Linked DNA regions of Homo sapiens. The protein of the gene in region 2 purifies or fractionates together with the protein of the main gene of each other region. This does not show direct contact. Each region holds a gene or a part of one and is shown on either strand. Other genes may lie near its edges.

What was found. Proteins that work in one complex are often made in the same cells at the same time.
Region 1: the proteins of VASH2 (region 2) and RHEB purify together in Homo sapiens (affinity purification with mass spectrometry; one large-scale study listed by BioGRID and IntAct). This does not show direct contact.

What each region holds. Positions count from the first base shown.
Region 1 is NC_000007.14:151,471,015-151,475,741, forward strand, and holds part of RHEB (GTP-binding protein Rheb), read right to left. Parts: intron 592-4,727; coding exon 535-591; intron 428-534; coding exon 380-427; intron 1-379. UniProt on the Homo sapiens protein: Small GTPase that acts as an allosteric activator of the canonical mTORC1 complex, an evolutionarily conserved central nutrient sensor that stimulates anabolic reactions and macromolecule biosynthesis to promote cellular biomass generation and growth.
Region 2 is NC_000001.11:212,948,384-212,953,775, reverse strand, and holds the start of VASH2 (tubulinyl-Tyr carboxypeptidase 2), read right to left. Parts: upstream 3,236-5,392; 5' UTR 3,036-3,235; intron 2,438-3,035; 5' UTR 2,234-2,437; coding exon 1,958-2,233; intron 1-1,957. UniProt on the Homo sapiens protein: Tyrosine carboxypeptidase that removes the C-terminal tyrosine residue of alpha-tubulin, thereby regulating microtubule dynamics and function.

The DNA.
Region 1 (4,727 bases), on a different chromosome or scaffold from region 2:
CATGCAGGCTGTAGAGTCTCTTCCTCTCTGACATGAAGCTGCCTGGGCAGGGGACATCTGCCTCCTTTGCTCCTCACTGTAATCCCAAACCCTGGTACTCAAAAACCACTTGCTGCATAAATGAGCACTATGTCTTTTTAGAATTTGCTTTATGCAAAGTGGCAGATAACCTAAAGGTAGTTTCCTATAAAGTTTGCTCTCTCTTTTCTAGAGGAATGTGAGATTTCTATTCCACTTTTGCTTCTGCTGCACACGACCATAACACCTCTGAACGGATAAAAATGCTACAGCTAAAAATATTCTTGACATCAGAACAATAATTAAAATGATACTTCAGTGACTAAATCATCTTAGATTTGACTTTATAAAAGCTACATACCTTTCCATATGCAGGTCTTTCTTATTCCCAACCAACATAATAGGTATTCTATTTGTAAGAAAAAAAAGACAAACCAGTAAGTGCCAGATTGTATTGCTCAGAAGATACTATTAAAAGAAGTTTCTCTAACAAGCAGATAAAATGGTACTACTTACTGTACTTTCCCCACCATATCCAACAATTTGCCATGGATAACTTTAATCACTTCAAAACTATAAAACAAAAAGTATAAATTAGACATCCATTTTAATGTTGAAGTTTTTAAATGTATGTTATGTTGCCAGCTGGAAAAATGTAAAATGTCACAGACTCACCATTTTAACATAACATAAAATGAACACAAAGAACTCCTGTTTTTTCCTAGCAATCCATTCACATGTGCATACATCTGACACTCAGCAACCCTGACTGAGGATATTCAAAGTGAAACAGGTAAGGCATTCAAACGGAAAGCCTACCACTGGGCTGAGAAACCACATAAATGCAAATTTTAATCACCCAACTCATTCAGCAAAGAACCAACTGTTTACATTACAACTTGAACAGCTTTTCCTAGAGTGCCCTAGTACATTCAGCCTGCTCCTGTGTTCTTTCCTAGGTACATACATTCTCTGGGTGATGCCAGTATCTCTTGGCTTTCAATCAGATCAATGAGCCGATGACTCTAGGATGGAGGTGGCTCTCACCGGGAAGGGGATCTGAGATGTCATAATGATCACTTGAAATCTGCCACAGCAGGATTATTTATACCACTGACTGCTGGCAAATGGCCACAAATCATTTTCCACCCTCCCCCAAAAAACCCATGCAAACATCTGCCAGCACATCACTGGCTCTACTTTCAAATCCTACCTAGAATCTGACGGCTTCTCACTCCCCTCCACTGCTGCCGCTGAGGTGTGAATTCCTGGCCCAAGTCTGCCTGCATCAGTTCCACAGCCCCAACCCTTCCCCGCCACCCCTGCTCAGCACAGCAACCAGAGGACTCTGCTGCAGCAGATGGACGGTGCCTGGTTCAACATCCTCTGATGGGTGGCCATCTTTACTCGGCCCCAGTGACTCTCAAGCCGCAAACTTCTGACCTCGTGATCCGCCTGCCTCGGCCTCCCAAAGTGCTGGGATTACAGGCGTGAGCCACCACACCCAGCCTCAAATGTCACTTCTTACACCTCTTCTGTTTACCCTAAATGACAAATTTCCTTTCCATTTCTTACCCCTTCCGTACTTTATTTTTCTTGGCAGCATGGTCACAGACATCCTATCTCGCATGTGTGTCGTTTTACTGTTTGTCTCCCACACCAGAAATAATAGGTCCGCAAGGGCAGGGATTTGTCTGCTTTGTTCATGATTGCATCACAAGCTTCAGAATAAGTTAGCTTGTTGAATGAATTACACACTGTGCTATTTTAAACGATGTGTGCTGTCATTTGATAAAAACAAAAATGAAATTTAACCCCCCTACAAGCTCGCTGTGGGTCAACAAATGGGATATGGGTGTCCTAAGGACCTGCGGTTGCATTACAGAACCACGGTTTCCTCCGCATGCTGTATTTGCCTATCTTTAAAAGTGTCGCCACTTGGGCAAAAATACAGTACCCTGTCACGTGAGAAACAGCTGAAAGAACTAGGACTGTGTGGCAGGCAGCTTGGAGCCGGCTCCCAGATCTCCTGCTCTCCTAGTGGCCACACTGTGTGTCATCTCCCTGCATGGACCTAGTGACGTGCGTCTAATGAACAGAATATGGCAAAGGTGATGGAATGTCCCTTTTGCGGTTAGGTTATAAAAGACAGTGGCTTGTCATGCAGGAAATTCCCTGGCTCTCTTGTGCACCTGCCCCAATGAAGTGAAGCACCTGGCAAGGAGCAGAGGGCAGCCTCAGGCCAGCGGCCAGCAAGGAACTAAGAAGCTCAGTCCAACAACTTGCAAGAAACTCAACCCTGTCAAGAGCCACGTGAACACGCTGGGAAACATCTTCCCCCAGGCAAGCCTTCAGATGGGACTGCAGCCCCTGCTGATACCCACACTGTGGCTCTGAGAGACTGAAGCAGAGGACACAGCTAGGCCACACCCAGATTCCTGACCCACAAAAACTGTGAGATCATAAATGTGTACTGTTCTAAGTGGCTAAATTTCTTGAGATCACTGATTTTCTGAATCAAACTGGTTGATTCGGAAAGTTTTACTGACGTATTTCTTGGATATTCATAAATATTTGTGTATTCAGCATACAGATTTCTAAAAAACAAAACACCACTCTTCTCATACTCCCTCATGTCTCAAATTTGAGAATGCTGATTAAACTACGAGCTACTAGAAAAAAAAGGCATTATTTAAAACAGCCCCATTTGTTCCCAAACCCACTTATGCCAGTTAAATTCATCATAGTCATAATTTATGTTGCAAACTTTTGAAGTATGTGTAGACAGAGTTTTGTTTGTCTGAAAACTAGAAGTTGAATACTGTGAGTTGATCTACTAAAAACGGTGCTCCTTAATAAGGTGTGCCAAACCAACTGAAAAAGACTGGTGGGGAAAATCACAGCAATCTAAATAGTTGAGGTGTAGACTGTTTCCCAAGCATCTCACTCGGAAGAAACCGAACCAGAAGTCATAATGGACAAATCGTGGATGTAGTCATACTGAACAGCAGTGGGTGAACTCATATTCAAAGATGACAATTTGAAAATTTCACAAGATGAGTGACTGAATGTATATTTATGCTTTAAAACAAAACACTGGAGATTGACATCACCTTTCCGATTTTTTTTCCCTTTAACCAGTGTTGTTTTTTTGTTTTTTTTTTGAGACACAGCCTTGCTTTGTCGCTCAGGCTGAAGTGCAATGGCATGATTTCAGCTCATGATACAGTCTCCGCCTCCCAGGTTCAAGAGATTCTCCTGCCTCAGCCTCCCGAGCAGCTGGGATTACAGGCACCCGCCACCACACCCGGGTAATTTTTGTATTTTTAGTAGAGATGAGGTTTCACCATGTTGGCCAGGCTGGTCTCGAACTCCTGACCTCAAATGATCTGCCCACTTCGGCCTCCCAAAGTATTGGGATTACAGGTGTGGGCCACTGCGCCTGGCCCTTAACTAATGTTTTAAAGTAAGTAACCCGGCTGCCTCAGATAGGAGAGATCTACTCCTATATCAATATACCCAATTTACAGGCGACAAAGGTACGGTGAAGTAACTTGTCCAAAGTTGTTAGTGGGGATAAATGAAAACCCAAATCTCACATCTCTCAACTGCAGGTTTCTTTTTTCCATTTCTAGAAATTATGAAATAGGATGTATTTTCGCTTTATTTACTCAGAAAGAGCAATTCTACAGGGGTTTTATGATATAAAGGAATAATGTGAGACTTCTGTTTTATTTCACAAACAATGAAAATGGTTATTATTTAGATAGAGGTTAAATTCAATAAAAAGGATTAGACAATTCTGATCAACAAACTGGTTGATTCAGAAAGTTTTACTGACATATTTCTTGTATATTCATAAATATTTGTGTATTCAGCATATAGGTTTCTAAAAAACAAAACACCACTCTTCTCACACTCATGTTTGAGATTTGAGAATGCTCATTAAACTATGAGTTACTGAGGTAAAAGGCATATAACAAAAGAAAACACACCCATTTTAGTAAGGAGAAACTTGGTCAAAACTTGCAACAGTGCCACTGAGAAGACACAGTACCAAGCTTTTTGTCCTCTGCTTTGCACTAGGCCAGTGTTTTCTCAAATACATAAGGTCCTTGGTGAGCACACTTTCATATTTTTAATCCAGCTCAATGTATTTTTCAATTTCCCCAGTGGCACATGCTATGTTTTCAACTTGATTCTATAATGTCATCTAATTTGTGCACACCAAAAAAGAGACTTAAAAAAAATCAGTGGATGCACTAAGAAAATTTTCTACCTACTACTTTAATGCCTCAAAGTAACAATTTGTAAAGTAACACCAACACTGTTTTCTAAAAATCAGCTAGGATAAAATTGTACTTACCAACAACAAAACAATCTTTGAATCATGTTTTTCAAGTAAATTAGTAAAATAATGGAAATTCATAAACAAACATGAACTTCCAACATTCATTAGATTATTGGTACACTAAATTTGTTCTGGACAAGGCCTTACACGTGGCAGTATATACATTTTAAAAATATACAACTGAAATTAAAAAAATCTTTGTATAAAAATGGCCAATAGTTTTACTATTTAAAGTGCTCTTATAAGTCAGTAAGAAAATGATCATGTTTCCAAATACTAAGTACACAGTGGTTTTAAGCATAAAATCCAATCCAAGCATTGCTTTCAGTGACAATATAAATAAATACATTAAACAGGA
Region 2 (5,392 bases):
GTGACCTGGAGACTCACGGGTCATAACATCATGAGATTTTAGAGCTGGAAAGAACTTACAAAGTCTGGTCTATTCCCATTTTATAGATGAGAAAACTAAGGACAGAGATTTTAAGTGAATGACCTCACTTAAGTGAGGCACAAGGCTAGATGTCATACAACCAAGACTAGGATTCAGTTCCTTGATTTTTACTCCAAGTCCCTTCCATCCTAAGAGCACTCTCTCATAACATTCAAGGGTGCTGTGAGTAGCAAAGGAAGTTGACAATGCTCTGCCCTGATTCAAAAGGCAAGAGGAACACAACAATCAGTGATGAAATGTGATTTGCGGGTGGGAGGGTGCTGCGAGGAGGATTTATGGTTGGTCTAAGAGCTTCCTAACAATCGACTCTGGCCAGGCCTAAGATCAGCTGCCCTGGGAAGCAGCAAGCTCCCCATTCCCAAGAGGTCTTCAGAAAGAGGAGGGGATTCTGTTGAGAGGTGGGAGACTGGTCTCTACAAACAGCAAAATTCCATGATTCCCACATAGAGAATGCACCCCCCCCCGCGCACCCGCATACATGGTTGGAGGAAGGATAAAAGCACAATTAGAGGCAGGGTTGGTACGGGTGCTACTAAGAAAGGCAGCATGGGACAGTAGGAACAGGCGTTTTTTTCCTTGTGGTCACTTTTCTTCCAAGTTTAAGGGCTCTCGGCTCCTCACTGGAGGAAAAATTCTCAAGTCAGAACTGCAAACCAGGAACAAAGGTTGTTCTCATATTCAAGAACTCAGCAAGGGTAATTATGGTTGACACTAAAGCAGGCAAGATTCTAGTTGGGCACAATGAAGATCTCCTTGACCAGCAGAGTAATAGAACACTGTAACTGACTGCAGCAGGAAGTTTAGAGGCTCTGTCACTTCTCCAAGGACACACACAGCTTTCTGGCCTGCAGGCTCAGATGCTCAGCTGTCACCAGGCTGGGGAATCAACCAGATGGCCTTCCGGGTCTCAAGTCTGGCATTCCTAGACCTGCCCAGGAATCTTCTCAGCCGTACCAGCGTCCCCAGGGTCCAGGGGAAACCATCCGCCACGCTATAACCCCGAGGCTCGGCAGCATTTCTCCCCAGTTTGCATTTTGATGTTTCATATAACGTATCTACTCCCACCAGGGTACATCTCCCTCCCTCGGTAAAGATATCCTTAGCCACCAAACCCAAATGGCTCACTGGCTTCTCTCCAAGGCAAAAAGAGAGTTTCACTCCTCATCCTCTTTTTCTATCCAGTGAGACTAATTCATCATGTGTACTGGAAAGTCCCTTTTAAGTCTCAGCCAAAAGTCTTTCTTTTTTCTTGGAGCACAAATAAGCTGGGAAGAGAGAGAGAGAGTTCACCGTTTTGCAAGTTTCAGAGGTGAAAGTCACTGTCACACACACACACACAAAAAAACCAGAAAGAAAAGAAAAAAAACTGGCAAAAAGTCTGGAAATTATTCACACTGAGAAGTCTGACTGGTTGATTTCAAATTCATTCACAGCTTAATAAATCATTTGCTGGGGGAAGAGGGGAGCAGAGGAGGAGCAAGACACTCCAAAGAGAACAAGCAGGGTGGGATCCCTGGGGTCTGTGCATTCTTTGGCATCGCTGGTACCTGGTGGCTCTAGCTTTTGCTGAAGGAGGATGTATGTGGGGGTGAGTAAATAATAGAGTTTGGCTGGAGCTTCAAAGACACCTTGGCACAATCCAATTACACAGTCCCAGGATAGCAAGCCCGCTACCTCTCCCTTCCCCATTTCTTAGGCTTCCAATCTAAATATCTCAATTAGAAAAGGGCTGGCAGGAAGGAATGGGGAGAGGAAGGGAGTTTGTAGCAGGACTAGGAAAATGGAGATTGCCTGTGTTTGCTATGTATAGGCTGAAACGGTCCCATCGCTGCCTACCTACCCCCAGCCCCCCAACTCCGCCCTGGAAGCCACTGACCTTTGCCAAGAAGGCGGCGTTCCTGATGGCGCCCACCATTTCTCCCCCCTTAGGGTGCACCTTGGCCACGTGCATCCACATGCGCTCCCAGGTGTGGCTGTCGATGGGGAAGCCGCTCTTGTTGACGTGGAACAGCACCCCGCCGTCTTTGTCCTCCTCCTCTGAGCCCCCGCTGGTGGCGAGGCTCACGGGCCGCGCGTGGCTGCTCCGGGACCGGGTGCCTTTGGCGCCTTTGGGGTGGGGGCAGCGGTGAGTGTCGGCCGCGGAGCCGGTCATGGTGGGGCCTGGGCGGGGAGCGAGGTACTGGGGGCGCGCGGCGGCGGCAGCGGCGGCGGCGGCGGGGGGCGTGTGCGCGCGGGCGCGGCGAGGGGATCAGCGCCCCGCGGGGGCGGCCTTCTCCATGCCTCTCGCTGCGGCAGGACTCACCAAGGGGGAGCGGCGGCGGGAGCTCCGCGGAGGCTCCCTGCTTACCGGCGGTGCCTGAAATCAGCGGAGACACAGCTGACACCACAGCTAAGTGGACGCACAGCGGAACCGAGTGAGGGGTCCCGGAGTGTCTCCACGACACTCCCCGCTCCCCCCTGCACGCTGACAGCCTCCCTGAGAATCGATGACGGGCTTCCAGCCCTGCGATTACCTAGAAAGGCAGCTCAAAATGTGCCACGAAGCTTCACACACACCTAAACCCGGGGGGTTGGGGATGGAGGGGCACAAGGAGCTTGGGGGATGCGGAGCGCAAGATGTGGGGAGAAGAAAGACAGCTTGTGTAGCATGAAGGAACAGGAGGTTCCCGCAAGGCTCCACACATTCCTGGGTCCTCAGATGTGGCCAAGAGAGGAGGGGAGCCACGAACGTGCTGGCATGTGAGCGCCCAGAGCTGGCGCGAGGGCGCTGCAGCAGCCTTGGCTTGCAAGGCGGCCCGCTTTCTTCCAGGAAGCCCTCCCGGACCCCGGCGGGGATCTAGTGGAAAGAGCTCCATCCGCCCCCTTTTCCCCGAGTTCCAGCGCCTATCACCGGGAGGGACTGGCTGCAGGCGGGCGGCGCGCAGGAAGGGCGCGCGGCAGCTCCAAGATCCTACCTCGGGACGGTTGGCTTCATGGCTGCAGAGCCTCTCCGGGCGGCGGGAGAGCAGGGGCTGCTGCTGCTGCTGCTGGGCCTGGGGCTGGGGCTGGGGCTGCTGGGGCTTGCTGGGGCCGTCGCCTCATTCCATGTCCCATTCTCGAATGTTATTCTGTGACATATAACCAAGTCACCCGGGCAGCCGCCGATGTTCCGAATGCGTCTATTGGCCACCGCAACAAAGAGGGGCGGGTCCCGGGCTCGGGACTCTACAACCCCGGGCTCCGCGACGCTCTGATTGGCTCCAGGGGTTCTCTGGCGGGAGGGGACAGGAGTAGGGGGAGCCTGGCGGCCACGCGAAATCCGATCGCTGTGGTGTCCTGAGAGCCCCGCGGGCTGGAGCGTTTGGCCATGGGACTTAAGATCGAGTTTCCCCAGGGGTCGTGGCACTTCGAGGGTTTGCAACTGTGGAAGCAGAGGAGAAACAAAACCACCCGAGAAGTGACCCCGCGGAAGCAGAGGGTTTGGCATCAGAAGAGCATTCCCTGAGGGACGCTGGACACACTTACCTGCCTCTACCCGGGATGATGAGTTGTTCATCCTCTACCTGGGATGATGAGGGGCTGTTCATACCTATGCGTGAAATTAAATCTTTTTTAAATCCCGCATTTAAAAATTCCTCAAAATTAACAAGTGGGTGCAGCTTTGGATCCTCTGGTATTAGTCATGGTTAATAAAGTCCCTTTAAGCCCAAGTTGAGAGGAGACAATAAAACTCAAGAGGTCAGGCAGGCCCTGACTGTTCTGCCACAGCTGTTGAGTGAGAGGAGGGATGGAGAGATGCTTCCAAACCATGGTGAAGTGGGTGGCTATCCCACACTCACTACTGAAACACCTTCTCTTTCTTTTTCTTTAAGAAAGAGGAGAGCAGGTTGAGGTGGGAAGAGCACCAGACTGCTGACCTGAAGGCTGGCTCCTGGTCCAGGTTTGTCACTTTGCTCAGCTGTGTGACCCTGGACAAGCCACTTCCCTGCTCTGGGCCTTAGCTTCTCTTTCTGAAAGGAGAGCAGACCTCCCGCTCTCCAGGGTCTGTTCTGGCTGTAAGGTTCTGTGATTCCCTGACTTCCTCTCTTGTGACACTGAGGATCCTGGCCATAGCATCCTTTCTCTTTAAACTGCAGGCCAGCAGGCCAGCTCTGAGCAAAGCAGTTATGAGACCTATGCTAAGTGAACCTTGAATTAAGAAGACAGTTGTCAAAGTGCCACTGATGGCGGGTCAGTTTCTGGATGCTTATCCTGACAAGTTGCCTGTCATGGAACTGGAACTTCTCTTCCACAGGAGGGCAGAGACCCCTGAGGGGTAGTTGAGAGCCAGGGCTTGGGTGAGGAGACCTGGATTCTGGACTTAGCCCTGCACTGCTCCCTGAGACAGAGCCCATGCCAAGAACTTTATAGATTCAATAATGAGAATAGGGCAGACGTGGTGCCTCACACCTTTAAACCCAGCACTTTGGGAGAAAGAGGAGGAAGGATTACTTGAGGCCAGGAATTAGAGACTGGACCAACATAGCGAGACCTTGTCTCTACTAAATAAATATTTTGAAATTAGCCAGATGTGGTGGCACACACCTGTAGTCCCAGCTACTCAAAAGGCTGAAGTGGACATGTAGAATGAAACTGGATCCTCGTCTCTCACCTTACACAAAAATCAACTCCAGATGGATCAAAGACTTAAGTCTAAGACCTGAAACCATAAAAATTCTAGAAGATAACATGAGAAAAACACTTCTAGACATTAGCTCAGGCAAAGAAATCATGACTAAGACCTCAAAAGCAAATGTAACAAAAATGAAAATAAATAAATGAGACCTAATTAAACTAAAAAGGGTCTGCACAGCAAAAGAAATAATCAGCGGAGTAAACCGACAATCCACAGAGTGCGAGCAAATATTCACAAACTGTGCATCTGACAAAGGACCAGTATCCAGAATCTACAAGGAACCCAAACAGATCAGCCAGATAAAACCAATCCCATCAAAAAATTGGCAAAGGACATGAATAGACAATTTTCAAAAGAGGATATACAGTCAACAAACATATGAAAAAATGTTCAACATCACTAATTATCAGAGACATACAAATTAAACCACCATAAGATACCATCTTACTCTTGCGAGAATTGTCATAAAAGTCAAAAAATAATAGATTTTGATGTGGATGTGGCAAAAAGGGAACATGCATAAAACTGCTGGTGAGAATGTAAACTAGTACAACCACTATAGAAAACAGCAAGATTCCTTAAGGAACTAGAAGTAGAGCTAAAGCTACCATTCGATGCATCATTCCCATGGCAGGGTATCCACCCAAAGGAAAAGAA